Regions from separate parts of the Homo sapiens genome. Here region 2 is linked to region 1. The links come from fine-mapping of genetic effects on gene expression. Tissue or cell type: monocytes after LPS. Region 1 holds a variant in brackets; the other region holds the start of a gene. All regions are shown on one strand. Distances are between the middles of the regions.

Region 1 (8,104 bases):
CTTAGCCTTATTTCATAAATGTACCACCTTTGAATTGTAGTACATTTGTAAAACAAGGCGATACAATAAATGGTGGTTTCCAGGGGATGCGGGAGAGAGTAATGGGCAGTTATTATTTGATGTTTATTAAAATGGAGTTCCAGTGGGGTGATGAAAAAGTTCTGGTAATAGTGATGCCTGTACAATAATGTGAACGTACTTACTGCCACAGGACTAACTGTACACTTAAAAATGGTTAAAGTGGTAAATTTTATGTTGTATATATTTTATTATAATAGAAGGATAAGCAGAGACTGATTTTTTTTTTAATGAAAAGTTAAAAAATAAAAAGAAAGTATATTTCTTGCTACCCCTCAGAATCCTCTGAAATGGGCCCCTTACTCACTGAATTGAATACTTCCTAGGAAAGGAATAAGCAAGAGCAGAAGGACACAAGCTACATCCATATCCAAACCATTGAGCAGATGCAGCGGAAGGGCCGGCCAGTCTAATTTCTTAGAGTTTATCAGAAAATCTTGCAAGGACTAGGAGCAGCAACTGAGGACAAGGTTTTTAAAGCTGGAGTGAGCTACAGATTTACACAGGAGAGTCAGGTCTCATTTCCACTTTAATTTAAAAACTCTAAGCAGTTGGAACTTGCTTCTTGGTTGTCAGGTTTTGCAATGTTTACTGCGCCATAAATGGCTAAGAAGCTATTTGCAGGGTAAAGAGATAAAAATGGAATCTGGCTTCTAAATTGACTTTCCTTGAACAAGAGAAGAAAAGCAGAAAAAACACATTAAAGAGCCCTTTTAAACAGGTGTTATCAGGGAAGCAAAGTGGTGGGGAAATTTCAAGCAAATGAGAAACAGCTAATGATTATCTTCAATGTTACTGTTTTCTTATCCCAAGGAAGTTAACTCCCATACCCTACTAAGAGTGGGGAAAAGGTGCAGGGGAGTGTTATAGAACATCCAGCACCAAATCCACTACTTGTGTTTAGGTACTAACAACACTCACCAAGCACAGACTGCAGAGGAAAATAACTCATAAGAAGGTAACACACAACCAGGTTTCTAGGCGGGAAAAAGGTGGGTGGGCAGGAGAGGGGCTTAATCCTAAGCAAAGGTGGAAGATTCAGAAGCAGATCACTGAGACTGCTCATCTTCTGCACCCTGAGAAGTGGCCTCTTCTTCCCCATGTTGATCTGGCACTGAGTCACTTCTAGGAAGCTCAAAGTATACGATCCCCTGATACCAGTTCAACTCCAAGAGGAGAGAGATCCTGTACTACTTGTGCAGATATCCCCACAGCCTGATGGCAGTGCCTGGCACATAGCAAGCACTCAAATGGTCACCATGTAAGTGCTGTTCCAATTTCACCTAATCTTTACTGAAAAGGATAGCACAAAATGAAAGCAATAAATTCCTGCTCTGGGAACTCCAGGTGACATAATTATGTTCTAGGGAAGAAACTGGTACCAAAGGTTTAAACCATACTGAGATTTCTGTGGATCCTTACAATGACTAATTCTGAGGCGTTTTTACGTGAACTACAAATCCAAAAAAAATCAATGTAAGGAGTATTAGTTATACAAGAGTCCTGTTATAACTTGACCAATCAGAAGACAAAGTACTGCTTTACATTTAAACAGATTTTAAAAATAAGAACCAAACCAGGGCCGGGCACGGTGGCTCACGCTTGTAATCCCAGCACTTTGGGAGGCCGAGGTGGGTGGATCACGAGGTCAAGAGATCAAGACCATCCTGACCAACATGGTGAAACCCCATCTCCACTAAAAATACAAAAATTAGCTGGGCGTGGTGGCGTGTGCCTGTAGTCCCAGCTACTCGGGAGGCCGAGGTAGGAGAATCACTTGAACCTGGGAGGCAGAGGTTGCAGTGAGCCAAGATCAGGCCAGTGCACTCCAGCCTAGCAACAGATGGAGACTCCGTCTCAAAAACAAACAAACAAACAAAAAAACAACCAAAAGGCAATAAATTAGTCCTATCTCTCAGCAATTAGTTTGAGGCTAGTGACACACCACTATACCTTTACAGAGGAGACAGCATACTTACTCTCTGGCTGGAAGACAAACTCATATCCCCAGACTATCAGCAGGGTCCACACGACACTCCATGCAATTAGCTGCCAGGGCTCATACTTGGTGCAATGTCCATTTACATAATTCTTGGCTTTTGTGGAGTATACTTCCAAAATCTCTAAGTAGGGCTCAAAGGCCTTCTAGAAATACAAGTGAAAAATAAAAACATTACATTTAGAGAGAGAAAAGAAGTCTGTTCTTAGTTTGTACTTCAACTCTCATTTTTCAAGGGCAAGGTCATTCCGGATCTTGCCCTTCTTCAGCAATAATCTTATTATCATCTACAGCCCTCAAGGCTTCTGTACCAGTCACTCCAGCAGCACTCCACTGCCACTTAACAGCTAGTGGACTTTGAGACTATTTTCAATCTTGTGCCTATTTTATACAGTAAGAGGGTTAAGCTAGATCGTCACTTCAGCCCTAAAATTTCTATATGACTGCTAGAATCACTGTCCCACTCTCTTAACTCACACTAATACCCCCAATATCAATGTCATTTCTCTTCTCTATTTGAATCTTTCCTATTCTCTACCCCAGTAGTCAGCAAACTGGTTCTGTAATGAGCTTGATACTAAATTATTTTATATTTTAAGTGTTGCAAAGCAAACATTCTCCTTTACAACTACTCCTCTCTGCTGCTGGAGTACAAATATAGTCAGTTATTGTGTAAACAAAGGAACATGGCTGTGTTCCAACACAATGTAATTACAGACACCAAAACTTGAATTTCATATAATTTTCATGTTCATAAAATATTCTTTAACAATTTTTAAAATGTAAAAATCATTCTTAGCACAAGGACCATATAAAAGCAGGCAAGAGCCAGATTTGGCTTGCAGGCCACAATTTACCAATGCCTGCTCTAAGGCCTTACTTGACTATAATCTCTCAGTCAGCAACCATATCTTACCATCATGTGTATTCCTCACAACACCTGGTACGAGCAAGAAAAAACCTGTCCTCTGTAAACTTACCAGAGTATCTCATTCACGAGAATTCCTCTCTCCCTTTAAATTCTCCTCCAGTACTCATTTTTGATAAGTCCTATACAGAGCTTATCACAACCTGCCTTGCAGTCTACTCATCTGTTTCTTATCTCCCTGACTATATGGTTAAGTTCTTGAAGACAGACCAGTTCTATTCATATCTACAATCCCCTACAATGCCCTGTACAAACTAAGGTCATTTTATAGTTTACTATTCATTCACTTAATCAACATTGATTAAGCATCTCCAGGGTTGAAGGCAGTAAGCTGGGGAAGTGTTCAGGTACATATCATAGTTCCAAGTCTATACTGAGTTTACAATCTAATATGCAAGATGTAGATGTGTGTCCACACACACACACACACACAGGCACATACATATACAAACAAATCACGAAAACTTCTCAGGGGAATAGCCACAAAAAGCATATGAGTGCCAAGATGGAGCACTGAGGAAGGACTATCTAACTCTGAAGGGATAAAGATAATGAC[A/G]GAGGGCAAAATTTAAGCTGGTTAAAAGGATGAAAGAAAATTCTCTAGGTAGAAAAGTTAAAAGGAAAAAAGTCATACCAGAAAGAGAGGATAGTAGCTGCAAATGCATAAAAAGAGTCTGCATATGGCAAAAGTTCTATGTGGCAAAGTGTAAGCTACATGATGGCAGGGACCATTTCTGTCTCATCCAGTACTAAATCCCCAACATGTGGCAGAGTGCCCGGCACACAATTTATACTGAATACAAACATGGACAGGGGCTGACAGTGCCCAAGTAACAGTGCCCAAGTAAATGAGTGAACACTTAAATCAGAGACGTGAGGCTGGGAGAAGTATGCTAGGTCCATGATATGGTTTGGATGCCTATCCTCCAAATCTCATGTTGAAATGTGATTCCCGACATTGGAGATGAGGTCTGGTGGGAGATGACTGGATCACGGGGGTGCATCTTTCATGAATGAGTTCTTGCTCAGTTAGTTCAGGTGAGATCCGGTTGTTTATAAGCCTAGGACCTCCCCCCACTCTCTTTCTTGCTCTCACTCTTGCCATGTGACGTGCCTGCTCAAGTTTTGCCTTCCGCCATGATTGTAAGCTTCCTGAGGTCTCACCGGAAGCAGATGTTGAAGCCATGTTTGTACAAATATGCAGAACCATGAGCCAATTAACCCTCTTTTCTTTATAAATTACCCAGACTCAGGTATTTCTTAACAACAATGCAAGAACGGGCTAATCCAGTCCATGTTTAAAAAGGACTTAGAAAAACTGATATACAAACTGATAGGAACTTTTGTAAAGCAATTTGTTGGTATCTATCAACATTTTAAACGCATGTTCGTTTTGACCTAGCAATCTCACTTTTTGGCATCTGCATACTTTGCACATGTATACAAATAAACATGTTCAAGGATATTCATTTCAGTATTCTCTAACAAAAGGGAAAAAATAATGTAAATGTCCACCCACAGAAGAATGGTTAAATAAACTATAATACGTGCATTTTATGTACCCATACCATGAAACATTAAGAAGAAGACAGATCTACATGAACTACGTAGAAAAATTTCCAGAACATAGTATCAGGTAAAAATAAGTAAATTACAAACAACAGCAATAAAACAAAACAAAAGGCATGGATTTTTAAGTATGTGAGTAATTTTTTCGGGTGTGGGTATAGATCATTCAAAATTTTCAAGTTCAAGTTCGACAGACTGGTTAACTATGATGTTAACAGTTAATATCAGTATTAACTATGGTAAGACTAGAAGAGGAAGGGAAGGTAAAAAAGGTAGAAGATGTTTTGAGAAAAAGATAATGATACTGACTTAAATATATTCCTATTGGATATCCACATCCAGTGTTCTAGTAGGAACATGAAAGCTTAGAAAAAGGACAGATACTCAACAAATGCTTGTTGAAAACATTTATACCTGCAATGGACTGAATGTTTACATCCCCCAAAAATTCATATGTTGAAATCTAACCCTCAAGCTGATGGTAGGAGGAAGAGGGAGCCTTTGGGGGGTCATTAGATCATGAAGGCAGAGGCCTCGTGAATAAGATTAGTGACTTTATAAAAGAGACCCCCAGAGAGCAAATTTGCCCCTTCTACCATGTGAAGATACAGTGAGAAGACATTTTCTATGAACCACTTTTATGAAGGCCACCTTCCAGGAAGTGGGCCTCATCAGGCACCATATCTGCTGTTGCCTTGCTCTTGGGCTTCCTGGCCTCCAGAACTGAGAGAAATGGACTTTTGTTTATATGCCACCACGTTTATGGCATTTTGTTATAGCAGCCTGAATGGACTCAGACAATACTCTTAGTAATTAGACTGTGGTATAAGGTAATTAACATTAGACAACTACTAAGTTCCCTGGAGGGCTACCCATGGAGACAGTTTATCTGCAATTCCCCAACAGTTCTTGGTGGCCATTCCCCAGAGCCCACTGTTGCATCAACAACCTCAATCCAAAGCAATGGCAATACCAGCCAAAACCTGGGAAAGACCAGAGGAGTCTATCATCAAAAGTATGTCATGATTTCTATCATTATAAAGACTCGTCTAGTGTGAAAGTTGTGGTCAAACCAGATGGTTAAATACTGTGCATGAACGAGATGATGAAAGAACAATTATTCAGATTAGCTTTTCTTCTGGTGATACTAATTCCTAATTCACCCAGAAAACAGAAGTTACCAATGTCAAAAGATGACTATAGATATTATGAACAATTCACAGCACTGAGCAAAAAAGTAACATAACCAGTATTAGGGTGACAGCAAAGAACCAGCAAATGCAAACTAATTTTTAAAAGCCTTAAAATTAAGATATAAAGACATTCCTCACTAACATTTAAAAATTACATTCAGCAAGAATATATTTTCTTTGTATTTGTTTTGATTCTTATGAAGATAATGGCAATTCTTAAATTCAAAGGAGGTCCTTTAAAAGGAGATAAATCTAAATTCTTTAACACCAAAGACAGAATGACACTGTAGTTGGATGGGTCCTGACAAGCTTTTTGAGTAGTCAACTAGTTGATCACAGAAATTACATCTCCTGGCATCATTCTAAGGTCCTCCTAGTGTTACTACAAACAACCTAGGCTCAGTCCCCAATGTAGATGCAACTCACAACACTCACAGCTCACTGAATTATTGGGCTCTGTGGCATAAGGTATCCTATCTCCTTGGACTAAAGGATGATGCAGTTCCTTAGGACCTTGAAAACAGCACAAACCCCAGGCTGGGTCCTGATGCAATACTCTAGCCCTTGGGAAGCACAGAATGTAAGAGCTGAAGGGAACCTGGAAGATCAAGTCTAACATTTTCATTTTACAAGCAGAGACCCCAAAGTGAAATGACATGACTACGCTCATACAGACATGCTTGTGATTAAGTGAAGTCTAGGAACGCATGCCTTTTGACTCAGTATTCAGTACCCTTTCAAATCTTGATTTTCAGTATTCATGGGCAGAGGAGTAACACATTACAATCCAGCAGCATCCCAAGAGTTTTCTTTTCACAATTTATGTTCTTGGCAGGATCTACCCTGGATACATGGTACCATGTATAACATACTAAAATTATATAGTTAGGTCATGACTACAGATAAACATCTAGATCAACCTTGTCCAACATGCAGTCCAGGACAGCTCTGAATGTAGCCCAAAACAAATTTGTAAACTTTCTTAAAACATCATGAGACTTTTTTTTTTTGCAATTTTTATTTTTTTTTAAGCTCATCAGCTATCATTAGTATATTTTATGTGTGGCCCAAGACAATTATTCTTCTTCCAATGTGGCCCAGGACAGCCAAAAGACTGGACACCCCTGATCTAGATAGAGATGGCACAGAAGTTCATGTGATTATAATTACTATTCCCACTATGTCTTTTTACTTATAACAGTACTTTTTTGTCTATATATCTCTGAATATATACTTATAATTCTTAGGCTTCTGTTTATTTCAATTTTATCAATGTATTGTGTCTCTGGAAATATATGAACTATGAATGGTCATCCACAAAGGCCACTAGCTTACTGTGCAACTCCAGGTAAATTATTTCATCAATCTTTATGTCTTTATCTAGAAGAAGAAACACAAGAACAATACAGTCATAAAATAAGCTGTATCTGTATATGTGTGTGCCTGGGCAGGGAAGGGGGACAGGGGTGCTTATCTCCAACCCTTGCTTAATAGAACAGTAGTTTCAGTACAGTTTCTATAAGTAAAACATTCCTTCCTTCACTGTTATAAAATTGGAAAGGTATTCCTCTAGAAAAAAAAATTATTTGCCCAGTGAATGAATAATACTTTTTAAAGTATAACATTAAAGAAAAAAACAAACTCTTATAAACCTTAGTAGTAGGAATATTCATAATATTAACTACTTTAAAGAGCTATTGTCAAATAATGAGTAAACTAGCCTTTCTCTTGTTTATTCCATTTCCAATTCAATGATTACATTTCAGATGATACCCAAAAGGCATCAAAATAGTACTCAATAATCCTAATCGTTAGACAAAAGGCAGCTCCTAGAATTTATGGGAGCTTGGTAGCCCACTCGCCCCAATGACATAAAACTCTTTCAGCCTTCACTTTAAGGATGCAAGACCTTTTCATGAATGTACCCAACAGCAGAAGGCTACAAATATTGTAAATTTGGGGTATGCTACTTGTTAGACCACTGAGTTTCAAACTGTTTCAATATGTGTATTAGAGTCTACGTGTATGAGACTGTGTTGTAAAATACAGTCCCAAAGAAATGTCTTTTACAACACAATCTAATACATGTAGAAACAGAAACATATAAAACCAAAAGTTTCCAAAATAATACTTAGCACCTTATTACTTGTAATGTACTCACATTTCTATTTCTTCCTTCTTTAACGCTTGATATACTAAACTGATTTTGTGTCCCTCTAAATGGATCATAATCTGCAGTTTCAAAAGCAGTGCTTCAGAGTGATTTTACTTCTGGCTTCCTTAAATTTAGAATGTGGTTGTGTAATACAGTGAGGGAGCTAACACTAATGTTATTTT
Region 2 (8,102 bases), 46 kb before region 1:
GGAGAGGACTTATCAAATAAATTTTCAAATGCACAAAATTATAAGGCAGAGGGAAAAAAGATAAATCTTATTACACCAAAATATAAGATTTCTGCCCACAGACATCATGGATCTCATGCAAGAAGTCAGTATACAGATGGCAGAATGAGAGGAGATATTTGCAATATCAAAACTGACAAGCAATTAATGTCTAGATTTTATATAAACACCCACAAACCAACTAAAAAAAGAGAGCACTAAAAATTCTCAAAAATTGGCAAAGGATATTAAAAAGCAATTCACAAATAGTAACCCCCAAATGGTAACAAGCATATGAAGAGGTTCTCAAAATCATTAGTCATCAGAAAACAATGTAGAGTAAAACAATTGAAAGCGGCAGGAGGCAGACAATTTCCTAGGCAGATGGGGGTGGGTCCCCAGTGAAACCCCACCTTCAAGCCAAAAACAGCCTGGACTGCTGGTTTGGGATGAAACCCCTCAAACCAGGGTGAGAACTTCTGTTCCTGTTTGCCCACCCTTTCCTGATTGGTTCTTTCTGAATAATGCTTTTTAACCAATCAAATGTTGCCTTTTCTAATACTACCTACAGCCCGCCCCTCCCCAATCCTGTGCCTATAAAACCCCCTAGACTCAGCCACACTGAGATAGACAACCCCACCTTCTCAATCCCTCTCCACTGAGAGCTGTTTCATCGTCAATAAAATTCTCCATCCTCATCACCCTTCAACTGTCAGCATGACCTCATTCTTCTTGGATGCAGAACAAGAGCTCAGGACCCACCAAATGTGGGCACCCACAAAGGCTGTAACGCTGGCCCTCTACCCTCACTGGTGGAGGGCAGCTGCCCCACAGAACAGAAGCTGCAGCAGGGCCAAGCTGGTCCAGGAGCCACGGGCCAGAGTGGAGAAAGGGGCCGCCTGAGCTGCCAACATGCCGCTGTCCATCAGGCTGCAGATGGTGGAGATAAAAGAGCTATTTAGCACACTGTAACACCCCTCTCTGGGGCTTCAGGCACCCCTGCCTGGGTGCTGCCACAGTCTCCTTGGGGTGACACACCTGATCTGGCTGTGGGCCCCACACAGAGCCTGTTCCTGTGTCATGGCTCAGTGCAGCTGGCTGGACCCTGCATTCACTCGGTCACATGCTCCCTCCCGCCAGGGGCTGAGCATACAGTCGCAGTGGCCTTGTGAGCCATGGGCTGTAACACAAGCCAGATGGGGCCTGGCAAGCTGAGTAGATAAGGCACTCCCTGCTGCAACCTCAGCAAAGGGGTCAAGAAAAATCCTGCATCACAACAAGCTCTCATTTTATAGCTATTAGCCTGACAAAAAAATAAAAAGCTGGCTAATGGGAAGTGTGAGTATGTATGTGTAAGATGCATATGGAAATAGTACCCCCTCACACCATGCAGGAGAGAATGAGGACTGGTGTCCCCATCCTGGACATCATCTAGAACTATTTTGAGATACACACCCATGGGGGGAATTGCTGGATTTATAGGGTATGGATATACTTAAGTTGCCTAAGAAACTGCCCACAGCCCAGGGAGCAATTAGAGATGTTCACTGCAGCAGCATTGTTGTTTAACTCTGTGTACGTATGTGTTTGTGTGCCCACATGCTCACGGGCTTGGGAGGTGGTGGTAGCAGCAGAAAGTTGAAGGGAACCTGAGTGTCCATCACTGATAGAACAAGAAACCCATGGCAGATTCTCATTACAAAATACTAGGCTGCAGTTAAAAGCTACAGATTGAATATACATATAGCAACATGGGTAGATCTTAATTTTCCACTAAATACTCTGTTTTGTAAGAAACAGACTGAGAAATGTAATATATTTACATAATACCATTTACATAAATTTAAAAATACACATAGACGAAACAACACCACACATTTTGCAAGAACCTGTGCAAACAAAAATACACATTAACACATTAGAGAGGCTGCTATGGGCGGTGGTGGGGGGCGGGGAATAAAAGTGGAGCACAAGAATAAAAGTTAATAGAAAAATGTGAAATGTGAGAGGACTTTTCTAATCTGACTCTAAGACTTATTATAAAGCTATAATAATCAAGACAAGGTAGTGTTCTGTCATGACAGACAAACAGATCAATGGAACAGAAGAAAGGGCTCAGAAATAAACCCACATGTATACAGTCAATTGATATTTTACAAAGGTGCAAAGACAACTCAGTGGAGAAAGGAATAACTGAGTCGCCATGTGCAAAAGTGCATCTGGATCTATAACTTGAAGCATATAAAAATATTTACTCAAAGTGGATCACAGACTAAATGTAAAACCAAAAGCTATAAAACATAGGAGAAAACTTTTGATCTTGGGTTAGGCCAAGATTTCTATGTGTACAACATCAAAATAGAAATCCATAAAAGAAACATTTGATATATTGGATTTCATCAAAATTAAGAACGTTTGCTCTTTGAAAGGCACCATAAGATAATGCAAAGAAAATATTTGCAAATCACTGCCTGATCATGTCCTTATATCCAGAATAAAACACCCTCAAAACTCGATAAGAAGACAACCCAATTTCTTTTTTAATGGGCAGGAAATTCAAACATGCTATTCAATAAAAAAAACTTATCCTTAGCAAATAAGTACATGAAAAGACATTCAATACAATTACTAATCAAGGAAACTCAAAACCACAATGAGATACTGCTACACACCAATTAAAATTTAAAAGGCTGACTATATCAAGTGTTGGTGAGGACAGAGAACTGCAACCTTCATACACTGCTGCTAGGAATATAAAATGATACAACCATTTTGCAAAACAGTATGGCAGTTTCCTAATAAGTTATAAAAGTCCACCTACCACATGACCCAGGCATTCCATTCCTAAGTGTTTACTCAAGGAAAATTAAAACATACGTACTTTCGAAGATTTGTGCACCATATTCGCAGCAGCTTTATTTGTAATAGCCAAAAGGTAAACAACGCAAATGTCCAATAGTGAATCGCTAAACAAATTGTAGTCTATCTGTACAATGCAATACTATAAAATAAATTTTACTTAGCCATAAAAGGAAGAAACCATTGATATAGGCAACAACATGGCTGAACCCCAAAACAGTTATCCTGCCTAGTATATACTCTATGGTCCATTTACATAAAATTCTAGAAAATGCAAACTAATTTATAGTGACCTAAAGTACATCAGTGCTTGCCTGGCCAGGTGGTTTCGGGAGGAAGGGGTTACCAAAGGGCAAGGGAAAACTTGCAGGGATGATGATATGTTCATAATGTTGATCTCGGTGATGGTCTCACGAGGGAAACATTAAAATTTATCAAATTGTACACGTTGAATATGTGCAATTTATTGCATGTCAATTATATCCAAATAAGAGATTTTTATAAAGAAAAAAATAGGTATTCTGGCGCCCAGGGCCACCCAGCTGTAAGCGGCGGGGTGGGATTCCAACCCAGAAGCGGGCATTTGGAGCCCTCATGCTTCACCCTAGCTCCCTGAAACAAGCACGGAGGATGGCTCTGAGCAGCGAGGAAAGTGCTGGAAGCAAGCAGGCCGAGCGCGTCCCTGGCTGGGGACGTTAATCATTACCGGAGGGCGGCCCGAGCGCGGCCCCGCCCCGGGACGGCAGCCTGCGCGCCCGGCCGCCGCCTGCCCTCTCCGCTGGCCACCTGCTGCCGCCCGCGCCATGGTGAGTCCAGGGGTGCGCGGCCGCGATCGGGGCAGCGGGGCCGGGGCAGCCGCGGGCGAGGTGGGAGCGGGAAGGGGCGGGGGAAAGTCTTTTCGAGTCCCCTGCGGAGCCGCCGGGGTCCGAAAGTGGGGTCTCTGCCCGGCTCTCTGTCGCTGGCGGCGGGGAGGGGAAGCTGAAGCCCTGAGAGGGGCGGTGGCGGGTTCGAATCCCACCCAGTTGGGAGGCCAGGCCTGCCCTGACCCCGGCCAGTGCTTGTTCCGGGACCCTTCCGGGGGCGGGGCCTACGACCTTCCTGGGCCGGGGAAGACAGTCGTGGAGGAGTCCACGGATCTCGTCCCCTTGGTGGCCCGATTCTGCTTTATACTGGGGTGGGAGCGAGAGGGAGGCTGAGTTTGCGCGCTCGTGTGCGTGCCTGTCCGCTGCCCCTTCCCGCTGGCACTCTGGGTACGGGGTCTGCCTGGGACTCACGCTCTGCGCCGGTATGCTGGCCCCAGAGCCACTCCCCGCGCCGGCTTGAGGCCCGTGCCAGGCCACGGGGGCTTGGTGGCGCTGGAGCAGCCCTCCTCCCGTGAGCTTCCCCCACCCACCCCCGGGGCGGGGGCGGGGGCGGGGCCCTTGCTCTGCTGTAAGCTCGCGAGCTTCATCAGACCATTTCTGGTCCACAGGCCTTCGGAGCAGGCAAGACTGGGAGGGCCTTTTGATAGGAGAGGGACTTGGGGGAGGGAGGATGAGTGGGGCTGTTTGTGAGGGGCGCTGAGGTCCCAGAGATGCAGGCTTGGGAAATCGGTAACCACTCCCCACACCTCGCCAGAGGAGGCAAACGGGGCAGCGTCCCCCTCTCTGTCTCCAGAGCCGGCACCTGGAAGGTTTGTCAGTTCAGCCGCAGGCTGTGCGACCTGGGGGGTTCCAGAAGGCTCTACCGAGAAAGGGAAGCCTCCTAAGAGCTCACCTGGACTCACCCACCCCTTTAAGAGCCAAGGAAGTAAACAGTGGGCTCTGATGCTTTGGCTGACTTCTGGTTGTCTAGATACACGGACCAGGCGGTCAGCCACGGGGAGAAGGCCAGCTCTGGAGTAGAGACCTACCTACTGGGCAGATGATGCAAATCGCTGCTGCCATTCAATCCCTATAGTCATCCAGAGCCGAGGGGAAGAGAGGGGCCAAGCTACATCAGTCCAGAGAGAGCTCACGTTTTCAGGAGGGAAAACAGCAGGGAAAAAAGACGGACTTAGGAAAGCACTGCGATGCTTCAGCTACCCCAAATGCTACCAGGCCCATCACAAGCCTGCTTGCCTTAGGAAGTTTTTTTTTTGTAATGCAGATGACATTTGCTTTATAGCAGTGGAGTTTCCTAAAGTGTCCCATTGGCACCTCATGATGATCTGTGGAGGTGGAGGTTCTGCCAAGAGAGGTACAGCCACCTGGCTGGTAAATGGTGAAAGCGGGTCTCAAAACTCCTGCCAATCAACACATGGTGTCCAGTCTGCAGGCTGCCTCATAAAAGCTAAATCAACCTCCCTCACATTCCCTCCCCACCCCTAAGGGTATCTTTTCAATTCAGCACTCTATTTCTGCCCTGGGGTGGTGCTACTCTAGAAGCCTAGGTTCTGGGATCTGTTAAGCTCCTAGACCTGGATCCTCCTAGGATGAAACTGACCCTTGCTTCCTTGCTTTCTCTGAGGTTCCACTCATGGCCTGAATTGTGCCAATTTGGGCTGCCTTGAGGGCACTTCGCACATTAGGTAAATAGGATGGGGCACTAGGTTTGCCAGCTGCCTTTGGCCAAGTTCCTTCCACTTTGGCCTGAGCTTCCCAACCAGCCAGAAAAGCAGACGGAAAACCAGAGAAACCTAGCCCTGGCGGCTCAGGACCAGAGGCTGCCTGGGAGCATGACTGAGGACCTACTAGAGGTAGTGCCAACGGCGGTCAGCTGCAGTGTGGCTAAGAATGGGATGGACACTTATTTTAAATGTAGCTCCTTCGTCCAGCCCCAGCAATGCTGACACACAGACAACACTGCGCCATCACTGGCTAGGGGTGGGCGGGAAAGAACAGCAGACAAGTCGTTTCCCCTCTCTAGGCCTGTTTCCTCTTCAATACACGTGAAAGTTACGGTAGGGACGTGGGGTGCATATGATGAAGTACATAATAGGAAAAGGAAGGGGGGAGAGTCATGGGTACTCTTCCTGAGAGGTTGTGGAGTAACATATTTGCATCTGGGATTTATTTTGCTTTTACGCCCTCACTGATGTAATAATCTCATGGAGGGAAGGTCCGTAAGGCTTTGAGGGCAGGGTGGGGGAAGAGTGCTTCTCTGTCCCCGTCATATGAATTACATTGCTTTTGTGATTTCCCTTGTGTGTGTGTGGAGTGTTAAAACCCAAGACCTGAGGGCCTATCGGCAGACGAGCCTGGACCCCACCTCCTGGGCAGGGTGCCACCCTTGAGGCCTCCCAGCCTATTGCTCAAAGACCTGCTGCCCTTTGGTCACCCACGTCCAAAGCAGCCAGTGGAAGCTAAGTTCCCCTAAAGGTTGGAGCCCCTCTGTTTTGACCTATAAAGAGAAATGCCCTTGGGCCTCTGTTTTTTTCCCTCTTCTAGGCTGGCAAAGCACACAGGCTGAGCGCTGAGGAGAGGGACCAGCTGCTGCCAAACCTGAGGGCTGTGGGGTGGAATGAGCTGGAAGGCCGTGATGCCATCTTCAAGCAGTTTCATTTCAAAGACTTCAACAGGGTATGGCACCAGGGTGGGACAGAGTTTTCTGAGACGGGCTGATGGGGTCACCTTACAAAGCATGTTCTCTCCCTTCACGTCTTGTTAGCCAAGACTCTCAGACACCACACTCATCCAGTTATTTGGGCACTGTGCCAGTGGGGAAATTAATTTTCCTGTCTAACTCAGAAAGTATCATCTTTGGGGATTGGAGAGCCATAGGAGGATGTGTCTTGGGCTCTCCCTTCCTGGAACTTTTAGCAGCAGTCTTCTGAGGAGATAGTTCAAGTGGAAACCATGCACATCTGAAGACATTTGAACAGACGGCCAAGACTGGCCAGGCCAAAAGCCTGTTGTGGTGTTTCCACCTTGTTGACATCCTAAATAGCAAGACTTTCTTCCTACTGCAAGGACAATCTCTAACTCAAGCCTGAGAACCAGTGACAGGATGTCAAGGGGGAAATGATTATAGAGGAGTCTCCTGGGGGGAAGCTAATTCATCCTCCTGCGTCTAGGCCTTGAATTGGTGATGTCCAGAAGTCCTTTCTCTTAGAACACTAACCTGGCTCTCACTCCACTTAAATAGGCCTTTGGGTTCATGACAAGAGTGGCCCTGCAGGCTGAGAAACTGGACCACCATCCTGAATGGTTTAACGTGTACAACAAGGTGAGTGATGCTGTGTGCCTCTGTTGTGCTCTGCCCCCATCCAAATACTGCGAACTCTGACACATTCTGAAGGCTTTTGGACTTAACAATGAGCCTTCCTGACCCATAGGTCATCCACTCATCTCATTTCCAATCTCACTGAGATTGCACATGCCTAGAATCAACATAAATACCCCTGGGAAAAAAAAATCAGTCTTACTATAAAGAAATGCAAATTAAAAGATGCATGAGATAGTTGTGGTTAAAGTAGACATTTAAGTAGACATTAAGAAGGCAAAACCCAAGAAAGGAAAGGCTGTGGGAATCAGGCATACTTATTCAGTGTTCATAGCTCTAAATGGCTTTAATCTTGCTGGAGGTATGGAAGAATGAAAAAGTAATAAACTTGAACTAAGAATACACACATATTTGGGAGGCCGAGGTGGGCAGATCACGAGGTCAGGAGATCAAGACCCTCCTGGCTAACATGGTGAAACCCTGTCTCTACTAAAAACACAAAAAAATTAGGCGGGCGCGGTGGTGGACGCCTGTAGTCCCAGCTACTGGGGAGGCTGAGGCAGGAGAATGGTGGGAACCCGGGAGGCGGAGCTTGCAGTGAGCAGAGATTGAGCCACTGCACTCCAGCCTGGGAGACAGAGCAAGACTCCGTCTCAAAAAAAAAAAAAAAAAAAAATACAGACACATAGCCAACCTATCAAATTATTTGCTTAATGAATAGAAACAGTCATTAAATGTCTACCATGTGCCAAAAGCTCTGCTGGTCTCTGTTTATAAAAACAGTAAGGGTGGAAGAGGTCGTCTATGAATGGATAGTGTTTAGGAGTTGGCATTGGTTTTTGGTTTTGTCTTTAGCTTTTAGGTTGCTCTTGACATTCAGATATTAAGCTTTTATTCTATAGCTGAAGTCATGATTATTTTTGAGAGACAGCAAAGGGGAGATGTAGAAGATGTTGTTACAGACATGTCAGGAAGGAGTCCCCAGGAGAGATCGTACTGGCCAGCTGCTATTCTGGAGCTCCTAGCAGGGCTGAGCCCAGCAG

Alleles and levels. Positions count from the first base shown, and alleles are read on the strand shown. Sizes are in standard deviations (SD) of each study's normalised expression.
In carriers of allele A in region 1, the expression in monocytes after LPS of the gene that starts at base 3,649 in region 2 tends to be lower than with G alone (moderate effect, 0.47 SD a copy in Fairfax 2014).

Evidence for each region. PIP is the estimated chance that this variant, and not a neighbour inherited with it, causes the effect.
Region 2: it holds the start of PCBD1, and the variant in region 1 is fine-mapped to the expression of PCBD1 in monocytes after LPS (Fairfax 2014, PIP 0.95).

The regions. Positions count from the first base shown.
Region 1 is chr10:70,838,592-70,846,695 of GRCh38, reverse strand. SGPL1 (sphingosine-1-phosphate lyase 1) reads right to left here. Exons shown (of 15, transcript NM_003901.4): 3 at 2,058-2,223. Among named protein-coding and RNA genes, the nearest start is that of SGPL1, 27 kb to the right of the region's middle. The variant A/G (reference allele first, on the strand shown) is at 3,562.
Region 2 is chr10:70,884,112-70,892,213 of GRCh38, reverse strand. It overlaps PCBD1 (pterin-4 alpha-carbinolamine dehydratase 1), which reads left to right and starts at 3,649. Exons shown (of 4, transcript NM_000281.4): 1 at 3,649-3,683; 2 at 6,285-6,416; 3 at 6,982-7,062. The coding sequence starts at 3,681. RefSeq lists silencers at 3,533-3,782, 4,113-4,392.